7 linked regions of the Homo sapiens genome follow. The protein of the gene in region 4 purifies or fractionates together with the protein of the main gene of each other region. This does not show direct contact. Each region holds a gene or a part of one and is shown on either strand. Other genes may lie near its edges.

Region 1 (4,531 bases), on a different chromosome or scaffold from region 4:
TATTCCATCCACCCTTTGCCCATAACTTAAGATATCTCAGATCCTTGAAATTGGTTGAAGGAAGACAAAGAAAATCTGCAGACTACTAATTCTTCAGGATTCAATAGGAGAGTTGAGAAACGATCAGGGGAGTTGATTCCTTTCATGCCCAAATTGAACCCTTAAAGAATAGAGGAAATGAAGACTGACAGAGGACACAGAGAAGGAGAGTCCAGTGACAACATATGACAACGACAATGCTAGATCTTCCTCTGCCCAGTTTTATGCATTGAGCCTTTCCTCAGGATTCAGAACTAGAAGTTATTATTTTCTTAGACCTAAGCAACTGAGTCCTGAAGAGTGTGGTGGGGCTGGGGGGGAAGATGGTAGGACTCTTTCCACCTTGGACTTCAAGTGGCAATCAGTGTTCTCCAAAAAGGAAATTAAAAACTCATTGGATTTTATGAAAACAGGAGAAGAGTCTGTTAAAAGCCAGGGTTTACTTAAGACTTCATGCTGTTTTAGTTATCTCATCTCTTTGAGTACTGTCTTCATACCAGTATAAATTTTGTGAATCTCATTAAGGTACTCATTAAACTTACTCTGACCTGCTGTTGGAGGGCAAAAGGCTTGACCAAAAACTTCTGTGCACGGGAAGCTTGTTCAGCATCTTGATTTTCAAATTTATTCAATTCAAATTACTGTCAAGACAATTATCTCACCTTATACTCACAAAATACCTGAGAAGTAATATAGAGAAGGAAAATGAGACAGGAAGAAGTTGTCAGTTAATCTGCTACAGCAAATTTGTGGGAGAGCTAGGCTTTGGAACCAAAGGCTTTTAGACCAACATGCATACAGACCTCCCATCTGATTCAGTCAGTTAAGCTAAATTATGTTGCGGTAACAAATTGGCCCCATGTTTTGGTGGCTTACATAGCAAGGGTTTATTTCTCATGCAGCTGTTCCACCCTCGGAGGTCTGCTGCATACTGCATTGCCTCCAGGACCCAGGCTGAGGGAGTATCCTCTATCTGGGCATTGCCAGCCTGGTGGCAGAGGACAAAGAGACATGCTGAACCCTGGCTTCTCAAGAGCTGGCTTCTCAAGCTCTTAGATGGGTCACTTCCATGCAGATTGTATTGGCCAAAGTAAATGGTCATTCCTAAATTCAAAAGAATGAGGATAGAGAATCCTCCTGTAAAGAGTGGCTCTGAAAGACCCTTGGGCTGGGGAAGTAAATCCCCCTCTAGGGAGGGCAGTGAATATTTTGAATAACAGTTGGCTAGATTCCTAGTCAAGGAATCTACTATGAAGCCAAGTCTTTATTTTTAAAATTGTATCCCTGTCTGTAAGGATTTTTCTCCCTCTATTTGGCCTGCTCTGATTCTAGCTGGGCATAGTAGAATGATGTGTGTGTGTGTGTGTGTGTGTGTGTGTGTGAGAGAGAGAGAGACAGAGACAGAGACAGAGAGAGATAAGAGTTAGGCAGCCACAATGAATTGAAGTCAGAGTGAATTCTCCTACTCACTGGTGATGAGCTTCCAGGGACATCACCATCAAGTAAGTCATGGGTGGTAACCTTCTGAAAGGCCTTCTGTGCTGCTCTCTGATGACCTCAGCTGTGGAAGTGTACTCTCTGGGAAATGGTTCTGAGGCCATTAGGACTTCCAGCTGCTTGACAGAATGATTTCCCTTGGGACCTCGGCCCTTTGGACCTTTCCCAGCCATATGTCCCTAAATGCAGATGAATCAGATGGCACCCTTCTTTCCCTTGCTCTGTTTTTCTCTCTACTGAGAGGCCATAGTGTATAGCGTTTGGGTGAAAAATGTGGGCTCTGGAGCCAGGTTGCTCCGGTTCTAGAGTATCGGTTTTACCATTTAACAAGCTTTGTGTCCTTAGGCAAGTTACTTCCCTCATCTGTAAAACACTAACAGTACTTCCCTCAAAGAGTTACAGATTAAGCCAGTTAGTACACACACAGTGCTTACACTGCTGCCTGGAACATTCATCCTCAATAAAAGTTGGTTATCTGAGGAAAATGGTGCTGAAATAGTAATGGCTTTATACTGAAGACTGGGCTCAAACCAGAACTGCCACTCCACTCCACCCCACCCCAGTGGGAACTGAGCAATTGCCCCTTCTCTTGCACACCTGAACCACACAGGCTTCCCATTTTCTAATCATAGCACACCTTAGAGGCACGGATCAAGCATACCCTCCATGAAGCCTCCACCCATGAATCACCAAAATTTTGGCGATTTTTATTTATTTGAATTGCTGGCAACACTTATGTGTCATCCACATAGTGCTCTGGAGTCCCCACCCCACCTTTCCTTAAGTTACCTTTTTTAAAAAAAGTGACTGTCAAATATAATTGTGAACATAAAAACACAAAACAAAAAAACCTTATTACCTACCATAAGCAATATGTTCCACTAGCCCTTGACCACATTCTTGCATTCTTAGTCTAGATAGCCAGACTTAAGGGAAAGGACTATATGTCCTATACCCCCCACCAATAAACATTTGACTCAATAAGTGAAAATTCACCCTTCAGATAAATTGGATAAGACGTATTGTCTAAGACGTGTGCCTACCTGGCTGTTGCTGTGTCAACCCCCGGTAGGTGTAGACCTCGCAAGTCCACTTTCTGCCCCAGGCTTCTCTGCCATCGCCACCTGGGTTCTGCTTAGCTATTCTGACCTTTGTGCACTTCTGGACATCCAAAGGAGTTGCCATCCCAGGGGGCAACCCCCTTGAGATGGTGGATCTACATGGCTCCTCAATTGACCTGGCTCCTTAGAAGTTCCCCTCTGGGCCCCAGCCTCAGCCCTCAGGGGTGATTACTCTACAGTCCCCTTAGGGTGGCCTTCCCTCTTCCCCTGTTTCACTTTTCCCTGTCCCCCATTCTGTTCCCCTGGGTCACTTCCCAGGACTCACATGCATGCAAGTCCCTGTCTCAAGTCCTTGCATTTTGGGGAAACCTAGATGAAAACGCCTTGTTTACTAGTGTGGGGCTCGTCTTTTCCTTATACAAATAAGGGAGTATGAATGTTAATTTTGTAATATACTAAGCTACTTTGGATGTTTTAAAAAATACTCAGAACAAACTGACTTTTTACCAGGTTTTCACTACTATTTGTAAGACGCGGTTTTTGTTGTTGTTGTTGTTAGAATTAATGTTTTATTGTCACCCAGATGGCAATTAGGTTTATAATCTTCATACTTTATGTTTTTTGTAAATTAAAAAAAAATAAGTTTTAAATAGTCAATGGCTGGTTATATTTTCAGAAAACATGATTAGACTAATTCATTATGGTGGCTTCAAGCTTTTCCTTATTGGCCCCAGAAAATTCACCCACCTTTTGTCCCTTCTTAAAAAACTGGAATGTTGGCATGCATTTGACTTCATACTCTAAAGCAACATCCTGACAGTCATCCACATCTACTTCAAGGAATACCATGTTGGAATACTTTTCAGAGAGGGAATGAAAGAAAGACTTGATCATTTTGCAAGGCCCACACCATGTGGCTGAGAAGTCAACTACAAGTTTATTGCCTGCGGTGTCCAAGGCTTCCTGAAAAGCAACCTTGCTCTTGATCGTTTTACCATTCTTGGCTGCTGGGGTCTGATGAGCAACTGTAACGACCGATGGAAACGGATCCAAAGCACTGGACTGAGCTTGGACAAGACAAGGTTTTTTTTTTTTTTTAAAAATAATAATAATTATTATTTTTAATGGATACAGAGTCTTGCTATGTTGCTCAGGTTTGTCTCAAACCCCTGGCCTCAAGTGATCCTCCTGTCTAGGCCTCCCAAAATGCTGAGGTTACAGTTATGAGCCACGGGCACATGGCCAGATTAAAAAAGTAGACTCAAAAAAAAAAATTTGTATCGCATCACCTAGACTTTTCTATAATTTTCATTTCTGATTCTTTGGGATGGAACTCATAATCTCTCAGGGTGGCACTACTTGCTTTTGAATCTATAGTGCCTATTTTGTTCTGTAATGGGTTTAATTTACCCATTTCAAGTCAATTGCATTTTTATATTCTAGGATCTAGATCCAGAGTGAATGGGGGAAATTATGGTTTTGATACATGAACTATGAACTTAGGACAAAGCTTAAAACTCTTTTGAAAAAAAATAATCAAAGTTTTGGGCTTATATTGTCTGCATAAATTGGAAAAATGGGGTAATAAGAAACAACTTTAATTAGCTAACATTGAACAGTTTTAAGGATGGGGATTAATGTAGTATTTCCCTAAGAGTGTTTATTTTATTTTATTTTGAATTTTTTATTTTTGTGGGTACATAGTAGGTATATATATTTATGGGTTACATTAGGTATTTTGATGCAGGCATGCAATGTGTAATAATCACATCAGGGTAAATGGGGTGTCCATCACCTCAAGCATTTATCCTTTGTGTTTCCAACAATCTAATTGTACTCTTTTAGTTATTTTTAAATGTACCCCAAGAGTTTTTAAGAGAATTGTTCAAATGATCACTGCACTTCGTGTAAGCCATTCTCAGAGGCAGTTTCTG
Region 2 (3,500 bases), on a different chromosome or scaffold from region 4:
GCTGAGATCGAGTAGTTGGTGAGGCCTCCCAGCCTGTGGTTGTGGCTTCTTCTCAGGCTGCACAGAATCCACAGCTGCTCTACTCTTGCCGTACAGTCAGATCCTTCTTTCCTTTTTTTGATTTAAAGTTTTTTGCTTTTTTTGTTTTAATTTTTATTCTTTTAAAATACTATCTTCTTCCTTTCCTTCCCTCCCTCCCTCCTTTCCTCCTTTCCTCCTTCCTTCCTTCCAATTGTTTTCATTTTCTGGTGTTTTTTTTTTTTTTTTTTTTTTTTCAGAGTCTCACTCTGTTGCCCAGGCTGGCATGCACTGGCTCAGTCACAGCTTATTGCAACCTCTGCCTCCCAGGCTCAAGTGATCCTCACACCTCAGTTGCTGGGACTACAGGTGCATGCCACCATACCAATCTAATTTTTGTATTTTTTTGTAGAGTTGGAGTTTCACTATATTGTCCGGGCTGGTCTCGAACTCCTGGCCTCGAGTGATCCACCTACCCTGGCCTTGGCCTGCCAAAGTGCTGGGATTACAGGCATGAGCCACTATACCCGGCCCCGGTTAGTTCATTGTTTCAAGCTGGGACCTGGCTCAGCACATTTTTGAGGTGTGGGCACAACAGCACCTCAGAAATCCTGGAGTCCCTAGATTCTGAGCATGCAACTCTTCTGTGTTCTCTTCATTATTGATGGTAGCCAGCTGTAGTCTTTCCAGTGCTTTTATTCATCACATTTCCCACACCACACTCCTGCCTTCTCTGTCCTAGTTTTCTTCAGTCAGTATGATGAACATTTCTTCACCTAGTAGCTGAGAACAGCAAATGTGGACATTTATGAGCCTGCCACCGGAGGGGAAATGTGGGAAAACCCTGGACTTGAGCCCAGCACCAGCGAGACCAAGGTCGAGGATTTTGTTCCCTTTTCCTCCCCCCATTTGCTTTGCTTTGTTCTATGGCCACAGATGGCCACACAAGCCCCAGCCGTTTGTTTTAACTGAATGCTGGCGGTCATACAGGACAGAGCAAAGGACTGTGGTTAGATCAGCATAGATCCATCACTGTTTACTGGAAAAACCACTTAGGAGAGCATGCTCTACCAACTGTGGGTCGAGAAGCATAGTCACATAGTAATAGCTACTGTTGTTAATGCTCACCGTGGGCCAGGAATGGAGCTGGATGTTTTATGTGTGTCATCTTTAACTGTCACATTAAATGACATTAAATAGCAGCAAGCAATTAGTATTTGCTATTTTCCTATCTCCAAGTTTTCTTGCCACCGTCTCATTATATTGAACTAGATTTTGTTAAAAGGAGAAAAAGATATGGTCCTTGTCCTTGAGGAGTTGACAGCATAGTTGGGAAGAAGAGATTTAAGGACACTTGAGTGTAAATGATTACAGTACAGATTGATGACATAAGTGCTGAGGAGACTCTAGAGAGGAGTTTTGGGAGTTGGGTGGAGATGATTAGGAAGCTTCTAGTCTGAGACAACTCTGGCAGAGGACAGAAAAACCGCAGAATGAAAGCCCAGACCAATATAGACTTTGACAGTAAATCATTTGCATCGAAGTTTGGTTACGGGTTCAGTGCAGTTACGGGCGGAGGCTGGAAGACTGGGGAGAGGTAGAGTGATTGTGAAATTTCTAATTCCAGGGAAGCTGCTGGCACTTACTAGAATGGGGAAGGCAGGGGTTTTAGCCAGAGGTGATTGATGGGAGCGAGCTTGATAAGCAGTAGGTGGGAGACAGGCTAGACATCTGGCTTGACTGGGGAGAGGGGGACAGAGATGAAGAGAGTTTGAAGGGAGATGGGCACAGGGATTGTGGGAGGGCCTGGCAGGGGGGCAGAAGGTCACCTGTGCCCTGGCCCACAAACTGTTTCAGACTGACTGCACGCAGTTAAACTGGTCTCAGATGTCCACAGCAGACAGAACCCCATGCTGGGTGCTAGGGGTGGGGTGGGATTACCAAAGACGCAGAAGACAGTCCTGACCTCAAAGCATTTCCAGTCTAGTGGGGGATATTAGCAGGCTATTTCAGGCAAGTGTTCTGAGCTGGGTTTTTTGTATAATGGCTTTAATAAAAATAAAGGCTTTGTAGTATATAGAGGTAAAAACAGCTCCAACTTTTCTCCCCCAGGATTTGGGCTGTGGAATTGGCTTCTCAGCCCCTAACACCACACCATCTGGGCACATGAGAAACTTCTGCTTTCATCCTGTGGATTAATGAATATGTTTTCTTCTCTTGCAGAAGAAAGGTGAGCAGCCAACAGGCCAGCAGCGGCGGAAACACCAGATCACATATCTTATTCATCAGGTGAGAGACAGCTGAGGGCTCTGGCTCAGGCAGGATCTCTGTAAATCTGGGAATTTGAAGGCTGAGATACGAGTTAGAAGCCCAGATGCTTATCTTTTAGCAGCCCATCTTTTAGCAGGCATCCTCTCCTATTCTCAGAGCGGCCACTAGGAGGGGATACATCCTTCAGAATTATCCTGCTCTACTTCAGTCTCAATGCAGATAAGATTCAGGTGCAGGTGCTTAGAATAAAACTCTTAAGTGAAAATCCAGATATCCAAAACATAATGTAAGAGGAGAGTGAAATGGTTTATCATAGGGTTCTTTTAAATAGCAGGTTTCTCTAGTAATTTAAAAAACTTAAAAAAAAAGTTGATTCACCAACTTAGCCAAACATCCACCTGATGAAGAGGTTGGTTTTATATTCTTCACTTCTGTGGCAGGGAACATCAACACAAATAATTCAGAATTACAGGTAATCCAAAAATGTCTTTTGAAACTGGAATATGTCTTGGTATTTATTTAATATGACTGGGCAGCTTTCAAATACAGTTGACCCTTGACCAACACAGAGGGTTAGGGATGCCAGCACCCTAAACAGTCAAAAATCTGCGTATAACATTTTTTTTTTCCCTTTTTGGAGACAGGGGTCTTACTCTGTCACCCAGGCTGGAGTGCAGTGGTACAATCATGGCTTACTGCAGCTGCCGTCTCCTGGGCTCAAATGATCCTCCTACCTCAGTCTCCTAAGTAGCTGGGACCACAGGTGTGTGCCATCACACCCAGCTAATTTAACAATTTTTTTGTAGAGATAGGATCTTCCTGTGTAGCCCAGGCTATGTGTATAATTTTCGATTCCCCTAACAGCTAACTACTAATTGCCTACTGTTGACCAGAATCCTTACCGATAACACATATTTTGTATTTTGCAAAATGTGCTGGGTTGTCACACCTGCTGGCATAGCTGCAGCGATAGCAACAACTTCACAAATTTCCTTTTTTTTGAGACAGAGTCTCGCTCTGTTGCCAGGCTGGAGTGCAGTGGCACAATTCCTTTTCTTTTTTCACAGTGGTCCTTATGCTAGATTCATTTATCTTGAAGTGGCAGGCAACTGCAGCTGCAGACCCCAGTCTACGGAACGTACCAAACAAGTCAGCTTTTTCTTGTAATGTCATGACTTTTCTCTGCTGCTTGGGAGCACTTCAGCATGACT
Region 3 (4,531 bases), on a different chromosome or scaffold from region 4:
CATGCCATTATGCTACCTAGATCACACATAAAACAGCCAACTTAGAGGCCTGTGATCCTGTGATTTGTTTCTATAACCTTATCCATCAGACACTTGGGCCCACCCATTCTCCCTAAGCTTCAACCATCCTAAAGGAAGAAAAATCTACAATTCAGGTCTGGTTACTTACTCTCTTCTCCGCTGGTGTTAATCTGGACCATAACCTTTAACCTTTCAGGAGAACCTTTTCTCTGCCAGGAACTGTTCACTTTGTCTGCCAACTTCACAGAATCCACTGTTTCCAGCATGAAGAGATTGGGGACAGCTGTAATGAGACAGAGGCAAAGTAGTATTCCTTATTTGCTCTATTGCAGCAAGTAACATGCAACAAATCTCTGACTTGTTAGAGGAAAAAATATGCCAGGAAAAGAAAAACACAGTTAAATCTCAGTTCCTCTGAGAAGACAAATGTGACAGTTTTACTAGATACAAATTCAAATGTCAGACCATCCCTGGCTAATCAGCAAAGGTAAATAAGGGAAAAGCTGACATACATGATCAGGCAGCATATACATCCATAAGCTTCAAGAAGCTGGTAACGGACAGATTCCTAGTAAAAGGCTTGATCTATGTCTCAGTTCAAACTGAGAGAAACAGGTCAGGATGACAATGAAGAAAGGATGACCAGTGGAAGCCAAGATGCTTCCCTAGCATATCACCACAATTCTTCAACTTTCTGGGATGAGGGTATTCTTATCCAACAAGGACATCACCATGACCCTAACACTGGCCAGGTGTGGTGGCTCACACGTGTAATACCAGGTGGGTGGATCACCTGAGGTCAGGAGTTTGACACCAGCCTGGCCAACATGGTGAAACCCCATCTCTACTAAAAAACTGCAGCAATCCACAGGACAGATTATCACAGTTTACATAACTATTCCTCGTTAATGGATATTAGATTGTTTCTTATTTTTTATTACAAAAACAAAGCTTGGATATAGAACTTGGTGCTATGTACAAGTATTTCAGATGGGCAGTTTGCAAATATTTTCTCCCATTCTGAGTTGTCTCTTCACTTTGTTGTTTCCTTTGCTCTGCAAGAGCTTGTTTTCTTTTGGAGACAGAGTCTCGCTCTGTCGCCCAGGCTAGAGTGCAGTGGCACAATCTTGGCTCACTGCAACCTCTGCCTCCTGGGTTCAAGCTATTCTTCTGCCTCAGCCTCCCAAGTAGCTGAGATTACAGGCACCCACCACTACACCTCACTAATTTTTGTATTGTTGGTAGAGATGGGGTTTTGCCATGTTGGCCAGGCTGTTCTTGAACTCCTTACCTCGTGATCTGCTGGCCTTGGCCTCCCAAAGTGCTGGGATTACAGGCGTGAGCCACTGTGCCCAGCCTGCAAGAGCTTTTTAACTTGATGTGATCCCATTTGTCCATTTTTGCTTTGGTTGCCTGTGCTTTTGGAGTATTTACTCAAGCAATCTTTGTCAAGGTCAGGTGCAGTGGCTCACACCTGTAATCCCCACACTTTGGGAGGCTGAGGAGGGCAGATCACTTGAGGCCAGGAGTTCAAGACCAGCCTGTCCAACACAGTGAAACCCTGTCTCTACCAAAAAATAAAAAAATTAGCCAGAGATGGCTAGGCATTGTGGCTCACGCCTGTAATCCCAGCACTTGGGGAGGCCGAGGTGGTCGAATCACTTGAGGCCAGGAGTTTGAGATCCATTTGGCCAACATGGTGAAACCCTGTCTCTATTAAAAATACAAAAAAAATTAGCCAGGCCTGGTGGCACATGCCTGTAATCCCAGCTACTCGGGAGGCTGAGGTAGGAGAATTCCTTCAATCTGGGAGGCAGAGGTTGCAGTGAGCCGGGATCACGCCACTGCACTCCAGCCTGGGTGACAGAGCAAGACTAGAAAGACTAAAAAAGAAAGAAATATACATATATGTATTTGGCTTCAAGTGATCCTCCCACCTTGGCCTCCCAAAGTGTTGGGATTACTGGTGTGAGTCACTGCATCTGGCCTCAAGAAGCCTTTATGGAAATGAATTGAGCTGTGAGGTTGAATGAGTATAACGGATCATCCAGAAGGGAAAATGGCACTAAAACAACAGTTCTGTTAGGTTTTCCTGCCCCTTCTATGCCTGCTGGCTCCTTCCCCGCTCCCTCCTCCCATCACCTTTACATATTTCTAACATGGCTAGGTGCAGTGGCTCACACCTGCGATCCCAGCACCTTGGGAGGCTGAGGTGGGCGGATCACCTGAGGTCAGGAATTGGAGACCAGCCTGGCCAACATGGTGAAACCCCGTCTTTACCAAAAATACAAAAATTAGCCAGCATGGTGGGGCGTGCCTGTAATCCCAGCTACTTGGGAGGCTGAGGCAGGAGAATCGCTTGAACCCAGGAGATGGAGGTTGCAGTGAGCCGAGATCATGCCACTGCATTCCAGTCTGGGTGCAGAGTGAGACCCTGTCTCAAAACAAACAAACAAACAAACAAAATTTGTCCAGACTAATGTCTTGGAGAGTTTCCCCAATGTTTTCTTTTAGTAGTTTCAGGTCTTGGATTTAGATTTAAGTCTTTAATCTATTTTGATTTGATTTTTGTACATGGTGAGAGATAGGAGTCTAGTTTTATTCTTCTGCATATGGATATCTAGTTTTCCCAGCAGCACTTATTGAAGAGATTGTCCTTTTCCCAATGTATGTTCTTGGCACCTCTGTTAAAAATAAATTCTCTGTAGATGTACAAATTTATTTCTGAGTTCTCTATTCTGTTCCATTGGTCTATGTGTCTGTTTTTATGCTAGTTTTGGTTACTATAGCTCTACAGTATAATTTGAAGTCAGGTAATGTGATTCCTCCAGCTTTGTTTTTTGCTCAGGATGGCTTTGGCTATTATGGGTCTTTTGTGGTTCCATATAAATTTCAGGACTGTGTTTTTCTATTTCTGTGAAGAATGTCACTAGTATTCTGATAGGGACTGCACTGGATCTGTAGATTGCTTTGGGCAATAAGGACATTTTGACAATACTGATTTTTCCAATTCATGAGCATGGAATATCTTTCCATTTTTTCATGTCCTCTTCAAATTCTTGCATCAGTGTTTTACAGTTTTCATTGCAGAAATCTTTCACTTCTTTGGTGAAGTTTATTCTTAGGTATTTCATTTGTAGCTATTGTAAATGGGATTACTTTCCTGATTTCTTTTCCAGATCATTCACTGTTGGCATATAGAAATGCTACTGATTTTTGTATATTTATTTTGTATCCTGCAATGTTACTGAAGTTGTTTTTCAGTTATAATAGTTTTTTGGTGGAATCTTTATGTTTTTCCAAGACTCTACGGTTTTAGAATCTCCTGGTAAGACGAAGGAGTACTCATTTACTCACTCCCTCAAAACACTGGATCTTAGCAGTCTTTTTGATTTTTTACAAATCTGATTAGTGATTTTGTATTTCTCTGAGGATGAATATTTTTCATTTGATTACTGGCCTTTTGTATTTTTACCCCTTATAAATTGCCCCAGTTTTTGCCTATTTTTTTTCCCTATAAACAAAAAGATTTGTAGCTCTTTATGTATTCTGGATATGAATCTCTTCCCTCTTCAAAAATATTATTTTTCTTCCACTCTGTGCCTCCCTTTTGCTTTGACATGCAGAAAGCTTTAATTTTTGTGTGATCAAATCTGCTAGTTGTTCTTTTAAAATTTATTATTATTAATATTATTATTATTATTAGATAGGGTCTCCTCTGTCATCCAGGCTGGAGTGCAGTGGCACAATCACAGCTCACTGCAGGCTTAACCTTTTGGACTCAGGTGATCGTCCTACCTCAGCCTCCCAGGTAGCTGGGACCACAGACACACACCACTACGCCCAGCTAATTTTTTGTATTTTTAGTGGAGACAGGGTTTTGCCATGTTACCCAGGCTGGTCTTAAACTCTTGGGCTCAAGTGATCCACCTGCCTTGGCCTCCCAAAGTGCTAGATTTACAGGTGTGAGCCACTGTGCCTGGCCTAGTTGTTTTTTTTATGGTTTCCAGATTTTATGTCTTGCTTAGAAAAGCCCAAGAAAATAAAAATATTTTCCTGCATTTTATTCTAATACTTTTATAGCTTTTATTTTCAAGTTAGATTATTTAATCTAGCTGGAATTTACAACTCAATAATGAAAAGACAACTCAATTTAAAAAACATGCAGAGGACTGACTAGACATTTTTCCAAAGAAGACATAAAAATGGCCAATAAGCCCATGAAGAGATGCTCAACATCATTCGTTATTAATGAAAATCAAAACCGCCGGGCGTGGTGGCTCACGCCTGTAATCCCAGCACTTTGGGAGGCCAAGGCAGGCGGATCATGAGGTCTGGAGTTTGAGACCAGCCTAGCCAAGATGGTGAAACCGCATCTCTACTAAAAATACAAAAACATTAGCTGGGCGTGGTGGTGGGCGCCTGTAGTCCCAGCTACTCGGGAGGCTGAGGCAGAAGAATTGCTTGAACCTGGGAAGCGGAGGTTGCAGAAAGCTGAGATCGCACCACT
Region 4 (4,531 bases):
CTACCTTCTGCCATGATTGTGAGGCCTCCCCAGCCATATGGAACTGTGAGTTCATTAAACCTCTTTTTCTTTATAAATCACTTAGTCTCGGGTGTTTCTTCGTAACTGTGAAAATGGACTAATACAGTCATAGTAGCATACACCTATAGTTCCGGGGAGGGTTAGGGAGGAGGATGGCTTGAGCCCAGGAGTTAAAGGCTGCAGTGAGCTATAATGCCACTGCATTACAGCCTGGGTAAGAGAGGGACTTTTCTTCTTAAAAAAAAGAAAAGTATGTAAAAACTGATATCCTCATAATTGTTATAATACCACCAAATGAATTTAGGATAAAATATTTAGTTTTTCTCATCTCACTGCCTTTGTCCTTTTTTTTCAAAAAGTCAATCTCAAGATCCTCCTGCCTCAGCCTGAGTAGCTGCAACTACATGAGCACACCACCAAACCCAGCTAATTTATTTTTTTTGGAGAGACAGGATCTCTTTCAGATTGGTTCTCAAACTCCTAGGCTCAAAGGATCCTCCCTCCTAGGCTTCTCAAAGTGCTGGATTATGGGCTTGAGCCACAGTGCCTGGCCTCTCACTGCCCTTTAAGTAAAATAACAGCCCATCATTTAAAGAAAAAATTAACTCATACTATTATAGTACAGACTGTATTATATTACTAAAGAGATTAAGAATGAGCCATGACTGAAGTTTTGTCTTTTCCCAATTATTTTTCTAACTGCTAAACTGGCCAAAGCATTCAATGGTCTCCTCTAACTATGAAGATGGAGAGAGAATAAAATCATCCTGAGTAGTTTCCTTAGCAATAATCTGTACTCAGAGTGCTAATGAACAAATAAACATCTAAAGTCTCTTAGGGTTCTTATCTTGGTTCTATATTATTCAATACTCTATAAATTTATTTAAGTAGGATCAAAGGAGAATAAAGGGAAAATCATGAGTTCATAGCATGAATAAAAATTACAATAAGTGCCTACTTGCAGCCAAAAAAAAAAAAAAAAATCACCTTTTTTTAAGTCCTGTAGTTTGCTTCTAAAACAATTTAGTACTCAAGTGTAGCACGAAGAAGACCTGGTTCAACAAAGGTACTCAATATACATGTGTGGGAATACAGAGTCTGGTTATCAGAAGGCAAGTATGAAGAATCTGTACAACTCTATTGCACAATGAGCAAACGCTTTTTTAAGACTACTTTCACAAATATGTCATCTAAATCAAATGCATTAAAAATTGACCAGTAGTAATGAGATTAACGGTAGTTTTCAGGCATCTGAAAGTAAAGATGGATGATTAGGCCTCTGCATTATTTTCTACTTCAAACTCATGCCATGAAAAGGAAAACTGCTTCAAAGAATTTTACCATGCCACAGTGAAAAAGATGCACTCTAAGGCACAAGAAAAATGTGACTTCCCTACCCTGATGATACATGTCCCTGTAATTATGACAGTACAATATGCAAATCTGTTATGTAGTTATATTGTGTACATGCTCTCAAGTTGAAGAGAAATAAAAATTTAAGGCAGATTTAAGGGAGAAACCAAATGGTTCAAAGCTTGGTGGCCTACATAGTAGCTACAAATGGTATCATGCTAAATCATAAAGGAAAGTACCATGCACAAGTGCTACTATTCAAGTGTGACAAAAATATGTAACTGTATAAAGTATACCTTGGTCTTTTTATTGCTTCTACTGGCTTAGGGGCTTGAATGATGTGTTCCTGAAATTTGGGTTTTAATTCACATAGCTCCTTCTTCTCAGTAGTCTTGACTTCAGGTTTGACTGGCTCAGGTGGCTTCTCACTATTATGTCTACCTTTTGTACAGCCCTGTTAGTGAAAGATAATTCATTAAGAGCTATCTATTTTACATTTCATGATAGAAATATTATCTTTTCAGTTCTTTATTGATAGTGATTCTATTTCATGTTTTCTCCAGTTTCAATACATTGATTTTAAGAAATTAAAAACAGAACTCCAAATTTGCCATATTTGCTGAATCTCTGAATGACGGCTTTTTTAAAAAGTCTTTGAATTACACTTCATAAACATCTACTTATTCTATTAAAAATATGGCATAAACCTCTTGTTTACAGAAGAATTCTGGAGAATCTCACAAAGAACTGTAAAAAATAGTTATACAGAAAAATCTGTTACTCGAAAGGCCTCAATTTGAGACCTAGTTCTCAACATACTTATTAGTTATATGACCTTAAGCAAGATAATCTTTTTAAACCTCCATCTCCTCATTTGTAAAATGGAGGTAATGTCAGGTAAGATATTTTCTGAGAGAGTTAAATAATAAAATGCCTGGCACATTTGGCAGGTGATAACATTCAACAAACGTTAGCTACTTTTCTACTACATTCTACTGAATTATACATACTCTTTAACACCTCTGAAATGATACAATCAATAGCATTATCAGTTTGTTAGTAGCTTTAGTTTTCTTAGTGGTATATAAAGTGGTTTTATATAAAAGTGGTATGTAAAATATTTCAACAGCATCTTAGATAAAACTTTATCGTTCCTAACTGAAAAGGCTTTAAATTGTTGCTTACCACTTTCTCCTTGATGTTCTTTCAACATAACAGAAAGAACAAACCTAAAATGATAAGCAGGTAACTGATACCTTAAAACGTTAATTTCCAAAACAGATTCTTTATTTTACAAGCTGTGGAAGGGAGATGAGCTGCTTTTTGAAAGGTGTTATCTGCAAGTTGATGAAGACCAATCAATCTATATCAGAAATCAGACTCCTCAAATCTGAAGCTTTCTATAACATGTATTTTTAGGAAGATAATCTAGAAAAAATAATTAGTACTTACTACAATGCTTAAGAAATCAGAAAAATCAGTTGTTCTTCTCTTACAGCAAGACCAACCCTATGAAAAACAAGAGAAGGAAACTAAAAACTCTATTTGCATGAGAAACACGACCCACTAAAACACTCTACTTGCACTTATCTACTTGAATCCTGCAGTAACTTGCGTATAGAGTGCAAAATTTCAGTGTTGCATATAATTCACCTAATCAAGTAAAATGAATATTAATCTTTGATTTTTAAAAAGCCAATTAACCAATGTTAAAGTGATTTGTGCTATGCCCTATCATCAAGGGAAGCACCTTTATAAAACAAAAACTGTTTCTCTTTTCAACAATCGTGTCTGCTTTTTTTTTAGAAGAAAAACATGTTATAATTCCTAAAACTATCATATTTAAAGAATATTCAAAATAAGTATAGGTATTTTACTTTTAAAATCTATTAAGTTAAAGATAGTAACTATCTTTAGTTAATTTTAATTTCACAATAAGCATTCTATTTTCAGAACAACAAAGATTAATTAACACAGCAGCTAAAGCACTATTAAGCCTTTGAAGGTGATCTTTTCAGTGAGAAGCATAAAGACAGAGAAACTATTAGTATTTGTGATTTTTGAACAAACTATCAAGTAGTTTACCAAAAAATGGCTTTAATAATTATCTCTAAATTCCAATGTTTATAGAGCATAGGGAAACAAAAATGCAAAATCTCAAAACTTGGAACTTCAGATTAAGATTTGGGACTAAATTCAGATTAAGATGCAACTTTGCACACATCCGCCTGGACCTCGCTGATTTTCAAAAGACTGCATAAAAATATGGTAGTGATTTTTCTCATTATATGCACCTGTAGGTTCTTTTTCTTTAAAGGTAATTTCAAATATCCTATAATTCAAATTTTCCTTTAATTTGAAATTTAATTATCTTTTACTCCGAATTGAGATGTAGATCAATTACTACAACCTTAAATATAGGGTTTAAATAGCATCAATAATATAGTCAACAGAAAAGTTATTCTATAAGAGAAAAAGTTTTACTGTCTTAATCATGTACTAAATTATGTCAGATACTGTGATACACACATGTAAAATACAATACAGGCCAGCTGTTCCCAAATGCCAATCTGGATTCTATGCTAGTCTTCAGTACAATGAGAAAAGGAAAGATAAATTTAAGTTATGTGAATATAAGGTTGCTAGTTGTCTTTTTTCAGCAAGATTGTCCTTTTCTCTGAATATGCCCCTTCTAATATTAAAATAGTATTTCTTTTGTCAATGCAATGTTTAACTTCTTACTTGGTCAACTAGTATCCCTGTATTGATGTATACGCATTTTGTCTGAAATCTTCTGGACTGTGAAATCCAATAATCTTGGAAAGTCTAGGACTTTAAGAAATGGTTATAAAATAGAGACCACAATAAACACTACAACTGCAAAAGAGAGAGAAGCAAAAATACTTCAAAGTGAATTCATTAAGACTTGGAGTGATTAACAATGCGGTAAGAGAAAAAACGGGCAATGGACCAAATGATCAGAAAGTCAGTAGTATCATTACTAGGAGCAGTAAAGTTGAGAGGCAGACTACTTTTGGAATAAACGGTACACACTAGAAACTGGTTTGATGTTGCCAATGAGACACATAAATAGAAATATGTTGTAAGAGCCATCGGCGTAGAGGTGACATTTGAGAAAACCAATGAATGAACTGAA
Region 5 (4,531 bases), on a different chromosome or scaffold from region 4:
CACGGTGAAACCCCGTCTCTACTAAAAATACAAAAAATTAGCTGGGCGTGGTCGTGGGTGCCTGTAGTTCCAGCCACTTGGGAGGCTGAGGCGAGAGAATGGCGTGAACCTGGCAGGTGGGGCTTGCAGTGAGCAGAGATCGCGCCACTGCACTCTGCACTCCAACCTGGGCAACAGAGCAAGACTCCGTCTCAAAAAAAGAATCATTTTTTCTTTTTTACTGAGACCGAGTCTCGCTCTGTCACCCATGATGGAGTGCAGTGGTGAGATCTCGGCTCATTGCAACCTCTGCCTCCCAGGTTCAAGTGATTCTTGTGCCTCAGCCTCCCATGTAGCTGGGATTAGAGGTGCCCTCCACCATGCCCGGCTAATTTTTGTATTATTAGTAGAGAGTTTCACCATGTTGGCCAGGCTGGTCTTGAACTCCTGACCTCAAGTGATCCTCCCATCTCAGTCTCCCAAAGTGCTGGGATTACAGGCGTGAGCCACCATGCCCAGCCTTAAAGAATCATATTTCAGACCAGGCACGGTGGCTCACGCCTGTAATCCCAGTACTTTGGGAGGCCAGGGCAAGCGGATTGCCCACAATTATTTATATATATATCGGATTGCCCACAATTATTTATATATATGTGTGTGTGTGTGTGTGTGTGTGTATTTTTTGTTTGTTTTGTTTTGTTTTGTTTTTGAAACAAACTCTCACTCTGTCGCCAGGGTGAAGTGCAGTGGCGCGATCTCGGCTCACTAACCTCTGCCTCCTAGGTTCAAGCAATTCTCCTGTCTCAGCCTCCCAAGTAGCTGGGACTACAGGCGCACGCCACCATGCCCGGCTAATTTTTGTATTTTTAGTAGAGACAGGAATTTACCATGTTGGCCAGGATCGTCTAGATCTCCTGACCTGGTGATCTGCCTGCCTCAGCCTCCCGAAGTGCTGGGATTACAGGCGTGAGCCACCACGCCCGGCCAATTTATATTTTTTAATTAAAAAAATGTTTGTTTTACTTTTTTGTAGAAACAGGATCTCGCTATGTTGTCCAGGCTAGTCTTCAACTCCTGGGCTCAAATGATCATTCACCGCAGCTTCCCAAAGTGCTGGGCAGTGATTACAGGCATGGGCCACTATGCCCAGCCTGTTACCCACGATTATCACATTAAGTTACTTTTGGGTTATATATCAGCTAAAAGAGGCAGACCTTATTCCTACATCCAGACATTGCACAGAACATTACCTAAACTGCTTCCTTAAAGCCTATTTAGAGGCCAAGTGTGGTGGTTCATGCCTGTAATCCCTGCACTTTGGGAGGCCAAGGCGGGCAGATCGCCTAAGGTCAGGAGTTCGAGACCACCCAAGGTAACATGGTGAAACCCTGTCTCTACTAAAAGGCAAAAAATTAGCCAGGCATGGTGGCATGTGCCTGTAGTCCCAGCTACTCAGGAGGCTGACGCACAAGAATTGCTTGAGCCCAGGAGACGGGGGGTGCAGTGAGCTAAGATCTCACCACTGCACTCCTGCCTGGGCGGGAAAAAAAAAAAAAGCCTATTTAGAACGTCAGGTATCAGTCTTGATAGAAATAACAGAAGAAAAAAGGCAAAAGAGGATTGTGCACATATACTATATCAAAGCAACAAAATGTCTAGATAAAAGAAATTGCCAGCATCTCCCAGCTGTCACACTCAGGGCACCACAGAGATCAGGGTGGCAGAACTGCTCCTGGCTTATTCGTTCTCAAAGTCCAGCTCCCTTGTACAGAGATGGGCACAGTGCTGATGGCACTCACCACGCTTCTTTGTTCCCTCCTGGCATGAGCGATGGGCCATACCGGGCCCCTTCCTCTCCACCACTGACTCCGCTCCCCACAAATAAAATTCCCTTGGCCTTGAGGTCTCGGCACCGTCTCTGAAGGACAGAAAAATAATTTCATTATGCTTCCATGTTTCATTATGCTTCCATGTTTCATTATGCTACCCAAAAATGTTTCCCTTATAAATGAGAGGAAGTATAAGATAGGAATGGAGAGCCTACATTTACAGGAAATGACCCAAGGATCTAGGAATAACTGATGACTCAGGAAAGTTAATCCCCTATGTGTAGGAGTTAAAAAACAAAACAATACAACTATGGACATTCACGATACCTACCTCATCCCCAAAGTAAAATAATTAAGCCAAACACACATTGGCATTTTACTGGAAAAGACCTTGAATAAGACTCAACGAAGAGTAGGTGTAATACAACTTAATGCCATTCAGCACTTCAGAGCACACAGGAATTCCCTCAGCATTTGATACCATTAGAGGAGTGGTTCTAAACCAGTTATAGACTGACATATCATGGATTACTTGGAAGGGGAAGGGGAGGAGTTAAAACGTAATTCTCAGCCTGCTGTATCTGAGTTAGTCATCCTTTGAGTTGTATGTGTGACTGAGAATCTCACCCACCAAGTGTCTTTTTTTTTTTTTTTTTTTTCAGATGGAGTTTCACTCTGTCGCCCAGGCTGGAGTGCAGTGGCATGATCTCGGCTCACTGCAACTTCTGCCTCCCAGGTTCAAACAATTCTCCTGCCTCAGCCTCCCAAGTAGCTGGGACTACAGGCGCATGCCACCATGCCAGGCTAATTTTTTGTATTTTTAGTAGAGACGGGTTTTCGCCATGTTAGCCAGGATGGTCTTGATCTCTTGACCTCTTGGTCCACCTGCCTCCGTCTCCCAAAGTGCTGGGATTACAGGTGTGAGCCACCACACCCGGCCCTTCTGTTAAGTGTGTCTTAACAGAAAAAAAGGCTGAGAACTATTGTATCAGTAGTAATCTCAAAAAAATCAGTACCACAGGGCAGTTCACCCTACTGTCACATATGCGATGCTGACACTTTTTTCTAGAATGTTCTCGGAACCTGGAAGAATCTGGACTGAAGAACACTTACTGTGGTGTCCCTATATTCAGAATTTCCTCCGTCAATGATGATGTCACCAGTATCCAACAATGGTACCTGTAACCAGACACCAGCATTAAGATGGACCAAAAATGAAACATACCTTGGCAAATTAAAACAAACAAGAATTTATTCCAAATAAACATAGTCTAAAAAGAGTCTCGTTCTGTTGCCCAGCTTGGAATGCAGGAGTGCGAACATGGCTCACTGAAACCCTGAACTCCTGCAGTGGTGTGAACATGACTCACTGCAACTTTGAACTCCTTGAACCACAATGCCCAGCTAGTTTTAAAATTTTTTTTGTAGGCCAGGCGCGGTGGCTCACGCCTGTTATCCCAGCACTTTGGGAGGCCGAGGTGGGTGGATCATAAGGTCAGGAGATCAAGACCATCCTGGCTAACATGGTGAAACCTCGTCTCTACTAAAAATACGAAAAATTAGCCGGGCGTTGTGGCAGGCGCCTTGTAGTCCCAGCTACTCGGGAGGCTGAGGCAGGAGAATGGCGTGAACCCGGGAGGTGGAGCTTGCAGTGAGCTGAGATCGCAACACTGCACTCCAGCCTGGGGGACAGAGTGAGACCCCGTCTCAAAAAAAAAAAATTTTTTTTGAGATGGAGTCTCACCATGTCGCCCAGGCTGGTCTCAAACTCCTGGGCTAAAAGCCTCCTGGCTTGGCAGGAGGCCAACGCACCCAGCCTACTTAATCTTCAATAATCCTCTCTGTGGCCAGAGCTGCACACTATTTAAAAGTTTAGGGCTGACCAGGCTCAGTGGCTCACACCTGTAATCCCAACACTTTGGGAGGTTGAGGCAGGAGGATCGCTTGAGCCCAGGAATTTGAGACCAGCATGGACAGCATAGCAAGACCCCATTTCTATTTTTAAGTAAGTATACAGATTAAACACTGACTATAATGTGTCTAGAAGAGAGTGGGGATTCAGTAAATACATATCAAATGGTTTAGTGTATGAATGAATGATTTTATGACAACAGTTCGGAGGTCAGGAAGAGACAGAGCCTTGAACATGAATATCTACCTACAGCACACCAACCAGGCTGGGCTTTATTATTATTATTACTTTATTAATTAATTAATTAATTTATTTATTTATTTGAGACGGAGTCTCGCACTGTCACCCAGGCTGCAATGCAGTGGTGTGATCTCGGCTCACTGCAAGCTCTGCCTCCCGGGTTCACGCCACTCTCCTGCCTCAGCCTCCCAAGTAGCTGGGACTACAGGCACCCACCACCACGCCTGGCTAATTTTTTGTATTTTTAGTAGAGATGGGGTTTCACCGTGTTAGCTAGGATGGTCTCGATCTCCTGACCTCATGATCCACCCACCTCTGCCTCCCAAAGTGCTGGGATTACAGGCGTGAGCCACCGCGCCCAGCCTGGGCTTCATTATATTATTCAATCTTCCCCCTACAAGGCTCCAGTTAACATTACTTAGTATTTTCCTATACTGAAGAATAATCCACCATTTTTCAGTTTTCTCTGTCTGAAACTGATTACAGGCAGCTTGCCACACAAAAAATTTAGTATGTCCTTTTTTTAAACTCAGTGTTCTTCCTTTCTAGGTCATTTGATTGAAAAACAGTG
Region 6 (4,531 bases), on a different chromosome or scaffold from region 4:
TTCTTTTGAGACACGGCTCTGTGTATTGAACCCAAGGCCCTGGTGGTGTGGGGTCATGAGGGGATCTCCTGATCCACAGGTTACAAATATGGAGTGGGAGAAGTGTGGTTTCCCTGGTGGGGTTGCACAATCTCTCACTGCTCTGCTTGGCTGGGGGTGGGGGTTCTTTTGGCTCCATGCTTCTCCCACTTGGATCATCACCCCACCCTCCTTTTCTTTGTTCTCCATGGGTCCAGCTGTCTGCCTAGTCAGTCCTGATGTGAGAACGTGGATATTTTAGTTGAAGGTGCTGAATTCAGTTGCTATTTTCATTCTTCTCCATGACAGCTGCGGATCACAGCTGCTTCTAATCAGCCATCTCAGTCCCTATAGATTTCTATAAACTAAAATTTTTGAAAAATGTCACTATTTTTGACTTTATGGGTATTATACATTAGTTTGGTACTTAGAAATCACAAGTTAGTATATAAATGAAAAATTTGAGTTTGTTAGACTTTGTCTTTTTGATGGCATAATTTTTAATTGAAGCTTTATCTGATTATAAAAAGGCTGTTAAATTGCTTAGCAATTGTGGAACTCACCCTGAGGCTAGATGATTGTATATACTTATCAGGGGAACCCACCCCCAGTATTTCAACATAGGTTCTATTTTCCCTAAGTGTCGGCTGGTCTGAGAAATAAACAGAAAGAGTACAAAGAGAGGAATTTTACAGCTGGGCCGCCGGGGGTGATACCACATTATCGGTAGGTCCATAATGCCCCCTGAGCTACAAAACCAGCAAGTTTTTATTAGGGATTTCAAAAGGGGAGGGGGTGTACAAACAGGGAGTAGGTCACAAAGATCACATGCTTCAAAGGGCAATAAAGATCACAAGGCAAAGGGCAAAGTAAAGATCACAAGGCAAAGGGCAAAATTAGAATGACTGATGAGGGTCTGTGTTCGGCTGTGCACGTATTGTCTTGATAAACATCTTAAACAACAGAAAACAGGGTTCGAGAGCAGAGAACCGGTCTGACCTCAAATTTACCAGAGCGGGATCTTTTCCCCACCCTAATAAGCCAGAGGGTAATGCAGGAGAACAGGGCGTAATTTCAGTCCTTATCTCAACTGCATGAGACAGACACTTCCAGAGCAGCTGTTTATAGACGTCCCCCCAGGAATGCATTCCCTCCCCAGGGTATTAATTATTAATATTCCTTGCTGGGAAAATAATTCAGCGATATCTCTCCTGCTTTCACGTCCTTTTATAGGCTCTCTGCAAGAAGAAAAATATGGCTCTATTGTGCCTGACCCCGCAGGCAGTCAGACCTTTGGTTGTGTTCCCTTGTTCCTTAAAATTGCTGTTATTCTGTTCGTTTTCAAGGTGCTCTGATTTCATATTGTTCAAACACACATGTTTTACAGTCAATTTGTACAATAGTGGTCCTGAGGTGACCTACATTCTCAGCTTATGAAGATAACAGGATTAAGAGATTAAAGGCAGGCATAAGAAATTATAAGAGTATTAATTTTGGGAACTGATAAATGACCATGAAATCTTCACAATTTGTGTTCCTCTGCCATGGCTCCAGCCGGTCCCTCTGTTCGGGGTCCCTGACTTCCCACAACATATACTAATATTTTTGCTGCTTCTTATGTGCTGCCCCAGAGTGAGAGTCACTTTGCTTTTAGTCATTGTCAGTCCTGATGTGCACTTCCCTCTTGGATAATTTTTGTCCACAGAATTTTTTCTTTCCATGTAGAATGATTTCATTGGCCTTGAAAACTTGTTCTGGTTCTGTATCTTCTATAATATAGTCTATTTCAGCCCTATGGGAAAGTGATAAATTGATCTCACCTTATATTTTACAACAAAAGCCATTTAATATTCTCAAACTAATCTTCAGTCATGGAAAAGAAGAAGATCCATTCAGTAGTCACTGTGATTCAACAATTGGTATAAGTGCTTAACTTTCCCTTTATCACATCTCTGGTTAAAGTTTCATGTTCTCTGCCCATGTGTTCATCTCACAAATTAAATGTTGCTGTAGCTTTGACTAAGCTAGGTTGCAAGTTTCTTAAAAACAGGAGTCATAATACCAATTCCATGTATTCTGCAATGCTAAGTACAGTCTTCTGAGTGTTAAATAAATATTGTGCATTCAGATATAGAGATATAAAGACTTTATTTTAGTGATAGAAGGTAGTTTTAAATTTTATACATGATAGTAACACTAACTCTGTATCTGTAGTTTCAAGTATCTTGAAGGTGGTCACCTTTTTATTTTATGGGAATACCTGAGACTGGGTAATTAATAAAGAATAGAGGTTTATTTGGCTCATGGTTCTGTAGGCTGTGCAAGAAACATGGCATCAGGGTCTGCTTCTGGTGAGGACCTCAAGCTGCTTCCAGTCCTGCAGAAGGGGAAGGGGAGCTGGTATGTGCTGAGATCACATGGTGAAACTGAAAGCAAGAGAGAGATGGTAGGGAGGTGCCAGGCTCTTTTTAAACAACCAGCTCTTGAGGGAACTAACAACTCACTCACACTTCTCTCCCTTCCCCCAGGGCATTAATCTATTCATAAAGATATACGTCCATGACCCAACCACCTCCCACTAGGGGATCAAATTTCAACATGAGGTCTGGAGGGTTTGGTGTCCAAACTACAGGACTCCTTTAAGAGAGTGAAAGGATAAATCACAGAGTAAGAGAAAATGTCTAATATGTGTATCTTTCATTTTATAAATATATAAAGATTTCTTACATGTAATTGAGAAAACAATAACCCAGGAGGAAAATGAGCAAAAGACTTGAACTGGCTTTCAAAATGGAGGATATCCAAATGGACAATAGTTATAGGAATAGATGCTCAATTTCATAAGTACTCAGTAAAATTCAAATTAAAATTGTAATGAGATGCCAATGGAATGTCTCAGATTCAATTATAGAATTTCTGTTGTGTTCTTTTTTATAGTTTTTTATTTCTCTGCTAAGATTTTTTTTCTAATATTCACCAGGAGTACATTTTCCATTTTGTCCATTGGCGTAGCAACAATAGCTGCTTTAAAACCCTTGTGTGCTACTTCCAGTATCTTGGGTCATTTTGGGGTCAGTCATCATTAATTGTCCTTTTTCTTGAATATGAGTCATACTTTCCAGTTTGTTCTTGTCTAGTAATATTGGAGTGTGTTTTGGACATTGTACATGATATGATGTAGGAGCTGTGGATTCTGTTATATTCCTCTGAAGAGACCTTTAAAAGACTTTTTTTTTCTTAAATCAAGCAATTAACTTGACTGATCTGAAACTCTAAATTCTGTCTCCCTGTGGTGAGCAGCTGAATTGCCTGTCCAGTTTTTTTTTAAGCTTAACTGGGCTGCCTAGAAGATTCCAGTATGTATTCTATACATGCTATTCAGAGTCAGCCAGACATTTGGAGAGAGCTGATAGATTGGTTCCTCTCTTACTTGCTTCTTTCTGTGATTTCTCGGTATGCTTTCCAGATGCAGCATTCACCCCAAACACTGTGCTCTGGTTCTTTAAGCCAGGAAGACTGTAAATTTTCAGCATTTTTATTACCTTTTGAGGCACCAGCTGGGGCCTGCCATAAGGCTAAAACTTATGGAAAAAACAAAACCAAACTGGAAACTTATGAACTTATGTAGTATTTTTTCCTTTTTTCAAGTGTAGCACACCCTTCTCCCCTATTTTTGACTGCTTTTGGTCTGTCTATACTGCCTTTAGATAGCTGGGTTTTGTTTGTTTTGTTTTCGTTCAGAGTTTATAGTTACATGTGAAAGTGTTGGTTTGATAGTAGCTGCTTGACCATCACTGGAAGCAGAATTTAAGCTTTAAATTTAAATGAAGATACTTTGCTCTAATATTTTTACTTTCTTTGTACCTTAGGTACCCTCTTAGTGGCATGGGTTTACCAACATTTAAAGAATGGATCCAAAATACCCTTGGAGTAAATGTGGAGCATAAAACTACCTCTAAAGTAAGCAAACAAAAATTATTACTAACTCATTTAACTGTGTTTTTAAAACCCAAATTAATTTGATTTATCTTTGTAATTCATTATATTGGATTTACTGCAACTGTCATGTTTTTTGTTATAAAGCCTATTAATTATATTGGCCTTGTTAGACTGTTAGCGGCAGTTATTCATTGTCACAGATATAGACCTTAGTCTCAGAATTTATTTGAGATTTATCTGGCAAACTTTTTATCCTCTCTGAGCCTTGGTTATTTTTAGAATTGGGAGTAATAACTATTTGTTCTGCCTATCACAGGGTAGTAGTGAAGTGCAGATTATTTACTTCCTTAAAGAGTGCTTTGTTACAGAAATATAAGTTGCTATCATGTTTAGATTATTTAATAGACTGACTGTAATCTAGGATTAATAGAGAATAATTTAAAATAAAAATGTAAAATCACATTTAGTATTAGGATATTTAGAATATTTGAAGAATTATAAAAAGTAAAAATTTGATTAAGATATGAGTGATTGAGGATTTTAGTTTGTTCATGTAGTTTCACTTTTCTGAAAG
Region 7 (4,531 bases), on a different chromosome or scaffold from region 4:
GTCACAGAAGTTAGTTTTCCAACATAATCATTTAATATTCATTGCATTTTAAAAACATTTTCATTCGAGTGTTCCTTTTTTTTTTTTTTTGAGACACAGTCTTGCTCTGTGGCCCAGGCTGGAGTGCAGTGATGTGATCTCGGCTCACTGCAATCTCCGCCTCCCGGATTCAAGCCATTCTCCTGCCTCAGCCTTCCAAGTAGCTGGGACTACAGGCACATGCCACCACGCCCGGCTAATTTTTGTATTTCTAGTAGAGACAGGGTTTTGCCATGTTGGCCAGGCTGCTCTTGAACTCCTGACCTCTTGTGATCCACCCGCCTTGGCCTCCCAAAGTGCTGGGATTACAGGCGTGAGCCACCGTGCCCAGCCTCAAGTGTTCCTATAATAAATTTCTTTACCTTATAGAAGACACTATGTTGAACATAATTTGACTTCTCTGCATGATTCAGTATCTTTGCTGGAAGTATGAGCTATACCTTGATGCCTGCAGGGTACACCAATGTGTAGACTATTTACTTCTTCTGGATCTGCCCACTCTTCTGAGATTTTATACTGTTGTCTCCACCAATCATCATCTGACCATTGCAATTAGTGGTCTAATTTTAAAAGCCTATCCTCCCTGTTCTGGTTCCAAACCTGCTAAATGGGTAATGGCAGCATTTCCCAAGATAGTATTCCAAATATGTTCCCCAAGAAAGAATTTCCTGGTGAAAGAAGTTTAGTAAACACACATTTCCAGGTCTCTTCACTGCAGAACTTCTCAGGGCTTTTACCGTGCTAATGTGCACTACGAATTTCCAAGACTGAGGATTTAGTCCTTCCCTCAACAAGGGAATATGAAGCAGCATTCTCCAAACACATTTATTATAATAGGAGAAACCTTTTCTACAGACTTCTTTTTGGAGAAGAGAACCTATTAAAAACTCCTGGAAGTTACATTTCCAAGAATCCATTTAGAAAACCACTGAGCTAGTGAAATCAATAAATGTATTAAATCGGTAGCCTTATTTTAGACACAATTCTACTTTAAAGTAGGCTCTAAAGGGCCCTTAAGTGGGTGGTGGTGATTCATATGTGTCGGTCTCTCTTTCTTGCTAGGAGAAAACTTTACTGGCTCACTTCCAAGTCTGTAATTGGGTTCCAGATGGTGAGATTTGCTGGAAGCTGAACAGTAGATACGAGGCCCTGCTACATGCGGTTTCATGGTCAGAATCAAATGAACACATCTGAACAAACTGTTTACCTGTTTATCCTCATCGTCCATTCTTTTGAAGGAATTTTTTTCTGTAGTTAAATATGGAATCTGAACCTTAGTTCCATGCAGCTCAGCTGGGTTCCCAAATCGTATCTCACCATCATTCTTTGACATCATAAAGCGAGGCAGAGGCAATTCTTTGGGACCAGAAATCAGAGAAGCTCTAGTCAGACTTAATTTAAAAACTGCAAAAAAGGGGAACTCAATGGCCAAACGATGAATCATTTTTGAGGAAAAATTCCAGAGCACTAAATATAAATTTAGATTTAGATACAATGAGTACTCCTATAATAACGTCCTGATTTTTAAAATGCTATGGTTTAACCAAAGTATTCTGGCTTAACATTTTTCAATGTTGCCAAATCGCAGAATAAATTCAGATTTGGGACTGATCTCCCATTTCATCCTTCAATAACCAAGAAAAAGGATATGACACTGTATAATACAATAATAAGTGACAAATGGTGGCAGGTAAAATTCATATAATGCTTAAATATGCCAGGCACAGTATTAAAGATTTGCAAATATTAACTCATTTAATCCTCACAACAACTCTGTATGATAAAACTATCATTACCACCCCCTCATTGCAAAAGTAGAAACAGTCATAAAGGAGCTAAGTAATGTCCCCAGGATCACACAACTCATCTGTGGCAGAGCCACGGTTTGAATGCAGGCAAGCTGGTACTTTACCAGTGCTCTACAGAATGGTCCCTTGTTCCTATGGCAAACTTAGTGGGTAGAACAGTTTCTCATCCTATGTAATTCTTTAAGGAATTTTCACATCCAATCTCTGGTTGTCTTTTCATAATGGAATAAGGAAAACAATATCAAGTCAGAGCAATCAATCTATCATTCAGCCACATTCTTCTGTCAAAACCATTAGCCACTCAAAATGCTACAAAGAGTTGAAAAGCAACGGTCTGGTATATTTACTCATCTTTCAAAATTCTAACAAAACTATTCTGAAAGCGGAAATGATACTTTGGCACACTTCTAGTTCTCAGCACATCAAATCACACACAATCACGTAGCACAAAACCCTACAAAAATGGGGACATTATGGATTATGCATAATGATTTGCATCTGTATCCATTGTTCAGGATAATACTCATCAGTGTGCCTTTGCACTTCCATCAGCTCTCTATTCCAAAAACACAGCTGCACTTTCAATGACTGATGCTGTGCTAAGGCCAGAAAACATCTTAGCAACAGCAAGCAAGTATCCTAGAGTTCCCCAGGCAAAGAAGGCCCCTGGTTCTCTAACATCCACATGATGTTTACTTTTAGTTGCTATGTTCACATTTGATTCAAAGCAGCAGGCGGCCGGGCGCAGTGGCTCACTTACGCCTATAATTCCAGCACTTTGGGAGGCGGAGGCGGGTGGACCTCCTGAGGTCAGGAGTTCGAAACTAACCTGGCCAACATGGTAAAACCCCGTCTCTACACAAAAATACCAAAAATTAGCCAGGCGTGGCGTCAGGCGCCTGTAATCCCAGCTACTCAGGAGGCTGAGGCAGGAGAATTGCTTAAACCCAGGAGGCGGAGGTTGCAGTGAGCCAAGATCATGCCATTGCACTCCAGCCTGGGCAACAAGAGCAAAATTCTGTACCAGAAAAAAAAAAAAGAAGCAGGCAATATGACAAATCCCTGTGTGATCAATCAGCCAAGGGCCCAAGAGACATAAATAGAGTAACCAATCTTAATGTTTCCCAATCTCGGGCAGCTCTCCAGCACTCAAAGCAGGAATGGGCTTCAAAAGCAAAAAAGCAAGAGAAAAGAAACTCTAGATTCTTAGTAAATCAAATATAAGCTAACTCTATGGTTTTGGTCTCAGGTATGTGCTCCAGCTCAGTCAGGAAAAAGGATCTAAAAAGATGAAACAAGATCACATAAAATAATTTGCACCCTGATCTACCCATAAGAGGATGACTCTACTTCCAAGTACTTCTTGAGGGAGAAAAGAAATAAATGCTCAGTATTTATAAGCTCCCTGACCAGTGCCTTACTGGCATTCAACAGATACCTCCAAGGAACAATGGAATACACTAACTGAATTATGAATATCAATTATTATATTAGGACTTAAGTAGGGCTCCCAGATATTGTCTAGGACATTGTCACTTCACACATTCTTCCACCCTGTCTATGGCATTTCTTTAGAGCTATGTGCCTAGAAAACCACCTCTCTCCCCCAGACAGCCACCAAACAGCAAAAGACAAAATACAGCTGAAGTTCTCTCATACTTTCTTTGGTCAGGTGGTTCCAAGCAACTCTCACTTAACAGAAGTATAACCATACATAATAATATTCTTATCATGGAAAACTTTCATGAAGGTGCCATTTCCCTTAAACTGATGCAAGCTTTTAAAAAGTGAAAGGTAAAAGTAGTTTGTAAATTTTCAGTCTGAATGTTTTTTTTGGTTTTTGTTTTTTTGAGACAAGGTCTGTCTCTCAGACTGAAGTGCAGTGGCACTAACATAGCTCATTGCAGCCTTGAACTCCCAGACTCAACTGATCCTCCTGCCTCAGCCTCCCAAGTAGCTGGGACTCCAGGTGCTTGCCACCATGCTGGCTAATTTCTTTTTTTATTTTTCGTAAAGATGGGGTCTTGCTATATTGCCCAGACAGGTCTCAAATTCCTGAGCTCAAGCGATCCTCCCGTCTTGGCCTCCTAAAGTGCTGGGATTACAGGCATGAGTCACCATACTCAACTGAATGTTTTTCCTAGTCACACATACACAAAATTTAATAGTGAAACTTTGAAAAAATTAATCAATAAAGTACCTGCTATACAATGATGTCTGTCAAGAAGAAGGTCTATTTGTAGTCATTGGTTAGAATCTTGTCTCCCAAACTGAATTGAATTACACACAGCAAACAAAGTAAGAGTTCACACTAAATGTTTAGAGGGTCTGAGGAGACAATGAGAGTGGCCATCCAAGATGACAATTTGCTTCATTGTTGTTTCATCTTAGGTTACATTCTTTGAACACAGAAATGCTTTGTATATTAAACATAAATGACTATTTTTCCCTTCCACAAAGAAAATTATGCCTGCTCCTTTTTAAACACTTGACCCTCTACAAGAGAGAAAAATCCTTTGTTTTTCCATATTTGATAGAGATACAGATATATTAGGAATACTTTAGGCTGGGAGTGGTGGCTCATGCCTGTAATCCCAGCACTTTGGGAGGCCGAGGTGGGAGGATCACTTGAGCCCAGCAGTTTGAGACCAGCCTGGACAACACAGTAAGACCCCTTCTCTTAA

The links.
Region 1: the proteins of CHORDC1 (region 4) and SEPTIN11 purify together in Homo sapiens (affinity purification with mass spectrometry, with the first as the bait; one large-scale study listed by BioGRID). This does not show direct contact.
Region 2: the proteins of CHORDC1 (region 4) and PRCC purify together in Homo sapiens (affinity purification with mass spectrometry, with the first as the bait; one large-scale study listed by BioGRID). This does not show direct contact.
Region 3: the proteins of CHORDC1 (region 4) and PLPBP purify together in Homo sapiens (affinity purification with mass spectrometry; one large-scale study listed by BioGRID and IntAct). This does not show direct contact.
Region 5: the proteins of CHORDC1 (region 4) and PGD fractionate together in Homo sapiens (co-fractionation; one large-scale study listed by BioGRID). This does not show direct contact.
Region 6: the proteins of CHORDC1 (region 4) and AGPS purify together in Homo sapiens (affinity purification with mass spectrometry; one large-scale study listed by BioGRID and IntAct). This does not show direct contact.
Region 7: the proteins of CHORDC1 (region 4) and REPS2 purify together in Homo sapiens (affinity purification with mass spectrometry; one large-scale study listed by BioGRID and IntAct). This does not show direct contact.

Annotation. Positions count from the first base shown.
Region 1 is NC_000004.12:76,955,574-76,960,104, forward strand, and holds part of SEPTIN11 (septin-11), read left to right. Parts: intron 1-3,150; exon of another isoform or gene 3,151-3,667; intron 3,668-3,698; exon of another isoform or gene 3,699-4,531. UniProt on the Homo sapiens protein: Filament-forming cytoskeletal GTPase. May play a role in cytokinesis. May play a role in the cytoarchitecture of neurons, including dendritic arborization and dendritic spines, and in GABAergic synaptic connectivity.
Region 2 is NC_000001.11:156,795,035-156,798,534, forward strand, and holds part of PRCC (proline-rich protein PRCC), read left to right. Parts: intron 1-2,241; coding exon 2,242-2,307; intron 2,308-3,500. UniProt on the Homo sapiens protein: May regulate cell cycle progression through interaction with MAD2L2.
Region 3 is NC_000008.11:37,768,528-37,773,058, reverse strand, and holds part of PLPBP (pyridoxal phosphate homeostasis protein), read right to left. Parts: intron 305-4,531; coding exon 170-304; intron 1-169. UniProt on the Homo sapiens protein: Pyridoxal 5'-phosphate (PLP)-binding protein, which may be involved in intracellular homeostatic regulation of pyridoxal 5'-phosphate (PLP), the active form of vitamin B6.
Region 4 is NC_000011.10:90,212,348-90,216,878, forward strand, and holds part of CHORDC1 (cysteine and histidine-rich domain-containing protein 1), read right to left. Parts: intron 2,884-4,531; coding exon 2,827-2,883; intron 1,829-2,826; coding exon 1,671-1,828; intron 1,074-1,670; exon of another isoform or gene 1,009-1,073; intron 1-1,008. UniProt on the Homo sapiens protein: Regulates centrosome duplication, probably by inhibiting the kinase activity of ROCK2. Proposed to act as co-chaperone for HSP90. May play a role in the regulation of NOD1 via a HSP90 chaperone complex. In vitro, has intrinsic chaperone activity.
Region 5 is NC_000001.11:10,401,527-10,406,057, reverse strand, and holds part of PGD (6-phosphogluconate dehydrogenase, decarboxylating), read right to left. Parts: intron 2,988-4,531; coding exon 2,922-2,987; intron 1,898-2,921; coding exon 1,779-1,897; intron 1-1,778. UniProt on the Homo sapiens protein: Catalyzes the oxidative decarboxylation of 6-phosphogluconate to ribulose 5-phosphate and CO(2), with concomitant reduction of NADP to NADPH.
Region 6 is NC_000002.12:177,430,440-177,434,970, forward strand, and holds part of AGPS (alkyldihydroxyacetonephosphate synthase, peroxisomal precursor), read left to right. Parts: intron 1-3,887; coding exon 3,888-3,978; intron 3,979-4,531. UniProt on the Homo sapiens protein: Catalyzes the exchange of the acyl chain in acyl-dihydroxyacetonephosphate (acyl-DHAP) for a long chain fatty alcohol, yielding the first ether linked intermediate, i.e. alkyl-dihydroxyacetonephosphate (alkyl-DHAP), in the pathway of ether lipid biosynthesis.
Region 7 is NC_000023.11:17,018,987-17,023,517, reverse strand, and holds part of REPS2 (ralBP1-associated Eps domain-containing protein 2), read right to left. Parts: intron 1,396-4,531; coding exon 1,247-1,395; intron 1-1,246. UniProt on the Homo sapiens protein: Involved in ligand-dependent receptor mediated endocytosis of the EGF and insulin receptors as part of the Ral signaling pathway. By controlling growth factor receptors endocytosis may regulate cell survival.